2 separate regions of the Homo sapiens genome follow, and region 1 is linked to region 2. Evidence: fine-mapped expression QTL. A gene starts in region 2. The other region holds a variant in brackets. All regions are shown on one strand. Distances are between the middles of the regions. Region 1 overlaps ZNF71-SMIM17 (ZNF71-SMIM17 readthrough (NMD candidate)). Region 2 holds the start of ZNF835 (zinc finger protein 835).

What was found. PIP is the estimated chance that this variant, and not a neighbour inherited with it, causes the effect.
Region 1: its variant is fine-mapped to the expression of ZNF835 in subcutaneous fat (FUSION, PIP 0.95).

Annotation. Positions count from the first base shown.
Region 1 is chr19:56,632,919-56,638,153 of GRCh38, reverse strand. The region is part of intron 2 of ZNF71-SMIM17 (ZNF71-SMIM17 readthrough (NMD candidate)); the gene reads right to left. Among named protein-coding and RNA genes, the nearest start is that of SMIM17, 7.6 kb to the left of the region's middle. RefSeq lists silencers at 1-61, 1-153. The variant G/ATG (reference allele first, on the strand shown) is at 2,915.
Region 2 is chr19:56,669,629-56,674,863 of GRCh38, reverse strand. It overlaps ZNF835 (zinc finger protein 835), which reads left to right and starts at 3,107. Exons shown (of 2, transcript NM_001005850.3): 1 at 3,107-3,288. LOC105372473 (a long non-coding RNA gene) reads right to left here and starts at 2,885. Exons shown (of 4, transcript XR_936110.4): 1 at 2,433-2,885.

The DNA of each region.
Region 1 (5,235 bases), 37 kb after region 2:
CGAGCTGCCTTGGGGGCTGTCCGTGGTGCTGAATCTGTCTGGCGTGAGCTGTCCGCAGTTCTAAACCATTCAAGCATTAGCGTTCGGTGGTGCTGACGCTCTACACAGAATAGCTGGAGAAGACTTTTTTTTTTCCCCCTCCTTCAAAGAACCCATCCGCCTGGGGAAAGCCCTGCTGTTTCCTGGAAACAAAGATCTCTGGGCTGTAGAGATCATGGGATGAAAACAGATGAGGGCAACAACTGCAAAGTCATTTTTAAGTGACAGCTTTTGTTCTTAGGACAGCAGGGCCTGGCTGAACCGGATTGAAATTATTAACATGAAGTTTCCCAAAAAGCTCTGAAGAGGGGGAAAGTACAGAAAGGAAATTCAGAGAAAGGTATGCCCCGGATTCAGGCTGTTGGTTATTCTGGGTTGGGAGAAGCAGTGGAGTGGGGAGGAGAGGGCTATATAAATATATGCGAGTTATTGGCAAAGCCCTAGGTTTTTTTTTTTTTTTTTTTTTTTTTTTTTTTTTTTTTGAGATGGAGTCTCGCTCAGTCGCCCAGGCTGGAGTGCAGTGGCGCGATCTCGGCTCACTGCAAACTCCGCCTCGCGGGTTCACGCCATTCTCCTTCCTTAGCCTCCCGAGTAGCTGGGACTACAGGCACCCGCCACCACGCCCGGCTAATTTTTTTTTTCTTTTTTGTATTTTTAGTAAAGACGGGTTTTCACCGTCTTAGCCAGGATGTTCTCGATCTCCTGACCTCGTGATGCGCCCGCCTCGGCCTCCCAAAGTGCTGGGATTATAGGCGTAAGCCACGGCGCCCAGCCGGCAAAGCGCTATTTTTTATGTTGCAAGCTGGGGTCACAAGAGGGATGTTATTGTAGATTTACAGAAATGCAGCATGGCTACAGTTTCTCATGCTTCCAAATACAACCAATCACATACATTGTAAACTGTGACTGTTATTTTAGTGTCGCTTTAGCTGGTGAATAGACACACCCACCATCTTTTTGTCAGGGTTAGTCTTGAATTATGTGGGTTTTGAATTGTACACCCTCTGCAAGAGTGAGTCCTTCACAAAATCAAATCTCTCTGGAATTGTTGAATGGATGAATAAGTGTTCTTCCCAATGATCTGGTCACCAGAAAAGGCACAGCTTCCACAATCACTCAAGAGACAGACATTCATAAAGCACTCACTACGTGCTGGACATTGCAGGTGACACCCAGTATGCCTGAAGCATATCCTGTATGCCTAATAGGATGATATTCACAACTTTTCAAGGGCCAGAGAGCTTTGAGGCTCTGACTTTGAGCTCTTTGTTTACCTAGAACCACTGTGATATGGCTCTTCACTATCTTTCTATTATGTCCTCTAATGGAGTTGCTGGCCCAGTGAGTTTTGATATTTCAATTTCTCAAAATAAGCTGGAGCTCATTACTTTATGAATATTTCTTTTTGCTTACTGTCTGCCTTGTTTCTAAAATGGTACAGACCCATGATGGTAGGGGCTGTGTGTTTCTAATTTACCTCTGAGCCTCCAGAACCTGGAACGTGTCTTGGCACATACCAGATGGCCCATGAATGTTGTTTTGAAACAGTCGAATGAATGAAAAACGGTGTTTGTAAATGTAAACTATCTCAATGTTTTAATGATGGTAATTCATTAAATTAAAAGGAAAATGAGTGACGTGACCTGAACTGAACTGTGCTCGTCAGTTGGCAGGATGAAGTCTATGATCTGCCAGATCGAGACATCCAAGATCACAGACCCCTGTTGAGTAAGACTTTGCCATAAGACCACTTCATGGGCCAGTGACCTGTTGTTCTATCCTCTGGTACATCTGCTGTGGCCCATAAGGCAGGGTTCTGTGGCACCAAGCAGGGAATCCTATCAGTAGGGACCATCCCACAAGGAGAGGAATCTATTTCATGCTTTTTGGCAACTGCAGGGAATTAATCACATTGTGTGGATGTATCTAGTGTACGTGGCCATCTCCAAACTGTGATCATTTGGGAGCCTCGGACACCCTGGGGCAGGTCAGCTTGTAAATGGCATATCCAGGATTAAACCCAGAGCGATATGTCCCCAAAGACCTTCTTGTTTCACTACTACTAAAAAATTTTCCATTTATTTAAGGTGGGATTGCAAGGGGAAGAAGTATGATTGAAATGGGAAAACTCACCTTGTTATTTAAAACCTAGAAGGATACAATCACTTGGGGGTGTATGGGGTAAATCATACAAGGGCAGCGAGCTGTCAAGTCTGCTTAGAGAAACAGGTTCTCCTAGCCACTTCCAGCCCACAGGGCTTTTCTGCAGTCTCGCTAGAAAAATGATTCCAAAGACAGAATCATTATAAATCAAGTAACATTTATTGAGAGCTTAATGTGTCCTCACCAAGATCATGTTGGTTGAGTGTTGTTATTATACTCATTTTACAGAACAAAATAGATCATCGTGGATGGATATGAAAAGGTCTCCAAGACACATCATTTCATGGGAGGATGGGGGAAGCAAGTTGCAAATCTACAGATGCAGTCTGACATGAATGACGTGAAAACCCAGCAACACATAAAACAATGTCGATATTTTCTGTGGGCACATAGATATGTCTATAAAGTCTTCTCAAGTTAAAAACACAAAAGGTATTTAAAAGAAAAAAAATCACAAGATTACCAGGCTTACCAACATTACATTTGTTCTTTCATGATAAAAAAAAAAAGCGGTAATAATATTAAATGATTACCACATCCAGAAAGTTTGTGAACTCTCTTCAAATCTCAGCATGGCAAAACTCAGATAGATAGATAGATAGATATTTATATTTATATTATATTATATATATATTTATGTTATATATTATATAATATATATTATTTATATAATATATAATATATATTATATATATTTTATATATATATATAT[G/ATG]TGAGTTTTGCCATGCTGATATTTGAAGAGAGTTCACAAACTTTCTGGATGTGGTAATCATTTTATATATATATATATATATATTTTTTTTTTTTTTTTTTTTTTTTTTTTTTTGCTAAGGAGTCCGGCTTACAGGAAGTGCTCAATGTTTTATTTGGGGACCAGGACTTAACAGGGTGAATCTGGTATGTTTGGTCAACCTCAGGATGCAACCTAATTTTTCTTCCTGACTATGATATGCCATGAATGTGATGATTTTCCTTTCAGATGTATTGCTTATAAAATAAAGAAGTTAAGAACTTTGTAAGGAAAAAAGAAGAAAAGCCAAAGATATGAACAATTGTAAGACATATTTCAATGTGAGAAATATTAAAATGTAAATAACTAACAACTCAGCATCAATAAAATATTATTTACTGGCCGGGCACGGTGGCTCAAGCCTGTAATCCCAACACTTTGGGAGGCCGAGGTGGGCGGATCAGCCAAGGTCAGAAGTTCGAGAGCAGCCTGGCCAACATGGCAAAACCCCGTCTCTACTAAACACACACACACAAAAAAAAGCTGGCATGGTGGTGGGTGCCTGTAATTCCAGCTACTTGGGAGGCTGAGGCAGGAGAATCTCTTGAACCCGGGAGACAGAGGTTGCAGTGAGCCAAGATTGTGCCATTGCACTCCAGCCTGGGCATCAACAGCAAAACTCTGTCTCAAAAAAAAAAAAATTTACTTATCACAACTTATCCAATAACAACAGTGCATATCTCATAGTTTGCGGCTGATAGGCATCTGGCATTGTTATTATGGAATGAGTAATAATAACAAGGTTCATTCTATGTATGGGAGAAGTGAGGCTGAGGATCAATGCATACACACACACACCTCAAAAGAATTCTATGCTCTCTTTTCCTCTCAAATCCCTGCTCAGTCATGTGCACTGGCTTGAGCTGGCTTGCTGGAGGATGAGATGCCCAAGGAGGAGAGGCGAGTCATCTCGGACAAGGTTATTCTGGACCAGGCAGCCCACAGCTGACCACAGTTGAACACATGAAGTCAGCTGAGGCCAGAACTATCCAGTTTAACTTAGCCCCTGTGGCCACATTCATGAGCTAATAATGCTTGTTATTTTAAGTCACTAAGTTTTGGAGTGGTTTGTTACACAGCAAAACTGACTGATACGCTTTATATACACAACTGATAATTAGCAGAGCACTACTACTTCTATATAGGTTGCTAACTTATTGAAATGTTTCTGTGAAAGTAGGTAAATAGCTGCTGAGTGAAAGCCCCTGAAGCCCCCTCACTTAAAGAAAACACAAATGAGAGTACACATATATGCTGTCATCGATTGTTCTGTTTGTTTTCATTTAATTCTGTAATTCAGAACTCCTACCATATTCAAATATTCAACTCATTTCTCACCCAGTTGAATCCTGATACATTCAGCCAGTCTTCTAAGGATGGACTCTTGGGTGTTGTCAATTCTTCTAAGCAAAGCATCAGTGAACACTTTGATGAAAGGAGAATGCCTTCCTTAGATACCTATGTAACTGTCTTCTCTTTGCCAAGTGGGTCTCTGCTCAAATGTTACCTTCTTAGAGTGGCCCTCTCTGACCACTGAAGTTGAGGCGGCCTCCCCTTCACTCTCCATTTCATCCCATTCTCTGATCATGCCCAGAAATTAGGAGTGGTGGTTCCATATGGTAAAAGACTTTGGTTTGTTCATTGCTCGGTTCCCAGACCCTGCAACAGTGCCTGGCACAGAATAGGTGCTCAGATGTTTATTGAATGAACGACACCCCGTTCACCCCCAAAGCTTCTTGTTTCTTGGGGTTCCTACTTATCAGAGGGTGCAGAAGTTCTGAGTATTTATATATTAGGCATTCACTCTCTTATTTCCTTTTTTCCACTTTCTTTTTCCTTAAAACAGCTACTCACCCACCACTGAGAGAAAAAAATAGCTCAGGTTCCTTCCTGACCCAAATTTCTCCTCCTCCTTTCCACATGCATCTGCTCACACCAACGTCTGTGTGCTACATTGGATCAACAATGAAAAATGCCAACTTCACTCCTACCTCTTCCTTCCCTCCATTTCTTTCCACCTCTCAACCTCTCTGTAAAACAGGTGATAAGCTATAAATGAACATTTACCTCCCTGTAGGCATCTCTTACAAGAAATTTGGGCCAAAAAGATCCCCCTATGAATTTTCATGCTTTGAAAAAGATTTATTGGGCAAATGAGTACGTATCACGAAGGAAATGGAAAATCTACTGAGCCTCATGGGGTGGTGCTGGGGAGGAGGGAGTAGATGGATGGATATAATTCC
Region 2 (5,235 bases):
TTTGCAGATGGCGGCCTTCTCCCTGTGCCTCTACATATCATGTTCTCTCTATGCGTGTCTCTGCGTGCAAATGCACCCTTTTTATAAGGACAGCTGTCATTTTGGGTTATGGCCCACCCTATTTACTCATTTTAACTTTATTACCTCTGTAAAGAACCTGTCTCCAAATAAAGTCACATTCTGAGGAATAGGGGGTTAGCATTCCAACATATATTTGGGAGGGGGGTGAGCATAAATCAACCCCCAACAGGTAAATGTGGCTTTCTAAAGAAAATTGTCTTAAAAACCATATTTAAAGGAAATGAATATTTGAGTTGTTTCTGTTGTCCATCCTTTGAGGAAAATGTCCCTTCTCATGAAGCTTCCAGAAGGAAGAGGGAAGCACAGAATGCCTCTTGAGGTCTACGAATAAGTAAAATATGAACTGTAAATAAAGCATGTGTCATGGTTTAAGGGCAGCCGTGGGGCTACATAAAGTAATGTGGAATCTCACAATCAATGGCATGTTGGTTTAGTGAAATGCATTTTTTTTCCCATTCTATCTTCACAGATTTCTCTGCTTTTCCAATTATCTAAAAATGATCTCATGCCTATGTTTCCAATGGCCAAGGGAATAATTTAGGAAGGCTAACAGAATTCCTTCAGAGCAGGCACCTTAAAATAATGCCGGCCAATAGTAAATGCCATGTGCATGTCAACTATTAAAATTATTTAAGGCCGAGGTGGAAGGATTGGAGTTCAAGACTAGCCAGGGCAACATAGCGACACCTCATCTCTACAAAAAATAAAAGTTAAAAAAAAGTTAGCCAGTGTGGTGGCACATGCCTGCAATCTCAGCTACTCAGGAGGCTAAGATGGGAGGATCACTAGAGTTGGGGAGGTCGAGGATGCAGTGAGCCGTGATTGTACCACTGCACTCCAGCCTGTGCAACAAAGCGAAACTGTTTCTAAAAAATAAAACTCTCTCCTGCCTCTGCCAGGAGAGAGCTTGTTCCTCCAACCCCAGGAGGCCAGGCAAGCATGGACAGGAGCCAAGGGAGCAGGGTCATGAACTTTTTCATCTTTGCAAAGTGGGCACTTGGCATCAGGGTCCCATCACCAGAAAGCACCAAAGCCCCTGGCACCCCACCCACTCCATCCTACCCAGGGACCCCAAGTAGGCAACTGCTATGGCAGTGGGTCCAGCCCAGGCCGGCACTGCCAGCCTCCTCTCCCTGCAGTAGGCACCAGCTCTACCTCCCCCGGCAGGCAATGTCCTGGCTTCTCAGCCCAGCACCATCTGTTCCCCTAGACTTCTCAGGGGCCAGCCCAGTCTGGGCCACCCTTTCCCTCATCCTCGGCTCCCACACAGGTGACAGGCCCAGCAGATAGCTTCTCTCTGGGAAAGGTTGGATGCTGCCTTACATCCCCTTCTATCCCTCCTCCCATCCACACACACAGGCACCCACCCACACCAGGTCTGCTTGTTTCTCACATGTAGGGAGAGGGGGGGAGACCAACCCCTTTGTGTCTTTTGAAATACGAAGAAAAATGTGTGTTCAGGAGCATGACTCCAGTGCTGGGCTCTTGGGCCCAGTTCAGTCTGTCTTGTCTCAAATCTAGGCACTTTTGCTTCAATTTTATTTTTTTTAAGAAAACAAAAACAGAAATCTGCACTAATTTACCTGGTTCTTAGGAAAACTTTTTTTTATTTTTTACATTTTTTGGTGTCCGTTTGTATTGAATAATTTGCTACATTTGTAAAATGTAAGAGGTATATATAATATATGTATATTTCTAACGTAAAAACAATTTTTTTCTTTTCAAGATTTTTTCTTAAAAAGATGAGAGAAACATATTTTTTCAGGAAAAACAAACTTTAAAAAAAAAAGAGGAGAAATAAAACCTTTTCTCCCCTTTCCCCATCCTCTATCTATCCCTGTTTCCCAGGAACAAATCAAAAGGTGGATTATCTTCTGAAGAATGGAAACTGTTAGTCCAGAATGATGTCTTTTTCTCAATGCAGTGAGTTATAGATTCTCTAGTTTTCTCCCTAGGGATGGGAAGGGGGCATTGACGCAAGCCTGGAGAGGAGCCCGGGGAGCAGGGTCATGAAGTTTTTTCTTCAGTGAAGGAGGAATACAATCAAGGGTTTTGTATTCAGAATGTTGTGCAATATTTTGGAATAGGACATTGGTGTGTTTAGAGATTTTAGTTTAAAAACAAAACAAAAAGATTGATCAAATCTGTACAGTTTCTATTGTTCCAGATTTTTTAAAGTTTGTATTAAAAGCATGATACATAATAAAAATAAATAAATAAATAAAACTAAAAAGTAAAATGAAATTCTTCATCTATGTTAATGGATTTGCCACCTTCTTTGCCATAGACTGGAATGACATCAGCTACCTGAGACCAAAATAAAAGTGTGGGTTGCAAACCCTGGCACCTACCTTTTTAGATTCCGCAGCCTGCAGTAGGGACTTAGCCTGTCTGAACCTCAGCTTCCTTCTTTCTTCTTCTTTTTTTTTGAGACGAAGTCTCGCTCTGTCACCCAGGCTGGAGTGCAGTGGTGCGATCTCAGCTCACTGCAACCCTCGCCTCCCAGGTTCAAGCCATTCTCCCGCCTCAGCCTTCCAAGTAGCTGGAAGTGCATGCCACCATGCTCGGCTAATTTTTGTATTTTTAGTAGAGACGGGGGTTTCGCCATATTGGCCAGGCTGGTCTCGAACTCCTGACCTCAGGTGATCCACCCGCCTCGGCCTCCCTAAGCGCTGGGATGACAGGTGCCCGGACTCAAGTTCCTTCTTTCTAAGCCTGTGGGCTCGGCCTCATCCCCTGAGCAAGAAAAAAGTCCCACCCCTGAGTTACTGGAAGCGCCCACCGCCATGCACTGAGGCTGTAGTGGGCGGGGCTCGGGGCAGCAGCCCGGCGCTCCTCGGGCCCCCAGGGGTCAGCGCCCTGCGGACCTAGCGTGTGCAGACGCTTAGCCTTCTGGGAGTTGTAGTTTCGATGACCCAGGCTTTGCAAGCTTTAGTCGCGGTGCCGGCGAGCGCGCAGCGCCCCCTGGGAGTCGTAGTTCCTAAGAACCAGGCGGGCCCGATGCGCAGGCGCAGTCCACCCCGGCCTGGTGCGCGGGCTCCTCCGCAGCAGCAGAAGTCTTGACCTTAGCTCGTCTAAGGAAGGAGGCACCAGGGTCTGCGTTGGCCCAGGAGGACCCGAGACTGAGTAGAAGCGGAGCCGACTGCACCAGGCTAGGAGGGGGCCGGCCAGCGCGTTCGAAGGTGATACCGGGAGGCGAGAGCAACGGTGTGTAGTGTGCGCGTGTTCCTGCAGGTGTGTGACCGCGTGTGAGCCCGTCCCCGAGTGCCATTGTGTCTGCACCTGTTCACTTAGCGGTGTCAGCCCGTATAGGTGTGTGACTGCCTGTGAGCCCGTCCCTGAGTAACACAGCGTCTGCACCTGGTCACTCGACGGTACCAGCAGGTGCAGGTGTGTGACTGCCTGTGAGCCTGTCACTGCATCTGCACCTGCTTACTCGGCGGTGCCAGCCCGTCACTGTGTCTGTACCTGCTCACTTGGCGGTGCCAGGCCGTGCAGGTGTGTGACTGGCTGTGAGCCTGTCCCTGAGTGTCACAGCGTCTGCACCTGCTCACTCGACGGTACCAGCAGGTGCAGGTGTGTGACTGCCTGTGAGCCCGTCCCTGAGTGTCACAGCGTCTGCCCCTGCTCACTTGGCGGTGCCAGCCCATCACTGTGTCTGTACCTGCTCACTCGGCGGTGCCAGGCCTTGCAGGTGTGTGACTGCCTGTGAGCCCGTCCCCGAGTGTCACTGTGTCTGCACCTGCTCACTCAGTGGTGCCAGCCCAGGCAGGTGACTGCAGGTAAAGGCATGTAACACTTTATCGGTGTGTTATGTGCTCGTTCATGTGAAGCGGTGTCTGCATATCACAGCATGTCACATACACGTGTGGCTGCCTTTGGGCAAGTCTGAAAGTTCTCCTGGATGTGAGGTGTGTGACCCCACGTGTGCATGTCTGGGTGTGCCGCCGTGTAGGCTGGCTCGGCCCGTGTGCCTGCCAGCACAATGATGGGTGACCTGGCTGTGCGAGCCTGTAGAGTGCCGTGCTGTCTGAAGTGTGTGCATCTGCACATGATGGAGACGCTGCACATGTGGGCTTTGGCTATGCTGGAGCTCTATCCACCGAGTGTGACTGCACATGTGTCCAGCCATCCCCTGTGGGTGTGTCCCAGTAATGGCCGGCCTGTGTGGAGCAGGTGGCATGTGTGACCTTGTGCGTCTCTGTGCACCTCTTCACACAGGGAGCTACGTGTGGGGCTGGGTGTGTGTGTAGCTACGTGTGCCCGGGACCCTGTGTGCATGTGTGAGTGTGGCTGCAGGTGATGGCTTCCCACCTGCCTCCTTGCATGGGGGTTAGGAGGGCGACTGTGTGTCCCTGGATATGGGTTTGGGTGTCTCTGCATGTCTGTGTGTGTCTGGGCAGGTATGATTGTGTATGACCCTGTGTGTGTCAGAGTGTGATGTAATGCATGTGTCTTCCTGTGATCTTGTGATATAATAAGAAATATATGTTTAATCTTTATCCCCAGCTCCTGGTACCAGAGCCCCTAAAACCCTTGGAATTTCCTGAGTGACAGGGGTAGAAGGAGTGTCTTCTGCAACTCTTAATAAGCCCCCTGCAACCACACCTGTGTTTATGCTAATGGAGGACTCCTGATAGGCCCCCAAGTACATTTATGCTAATGGAGGACTCCTGATAGGCCCCCAAGTACATTTATGCTAATGGAGGACTCCTGATAGGCCCCCAAGTACATTTATGCTAATGGAGGACTCCTGGTAGGCCCCCAAGTACATTTATGCTAATGGAGGACTCCTGATAGGCCCCCAAGTACATTTATGCTAATGGAGGACTCCTGATAGGCCCCCAAGTACATTTATGCTAATGGAGGACTCCTGATAGGCCCCCAAGTACATTTATGCTAATGGAGGACTCCTGGTAGGCCCCCAAGTACATTTATGCTAATGGAGGACTCCTGATAGGCCCCCAAGTACATTTATGCTAATGGAGGACTCCTGATAGGCCCCCAAGTACATTTATGCTAATGGAGGACTCCTGGTAGACCCCCAAGTACATTTATGCTAATGGAGGACTCCTGATAGGCCCCCAAGTACATTTATGCTAATGGAGGACTCCTGATAGGCCCCCAAGTACATTTATGCTAATGGAGGACTCC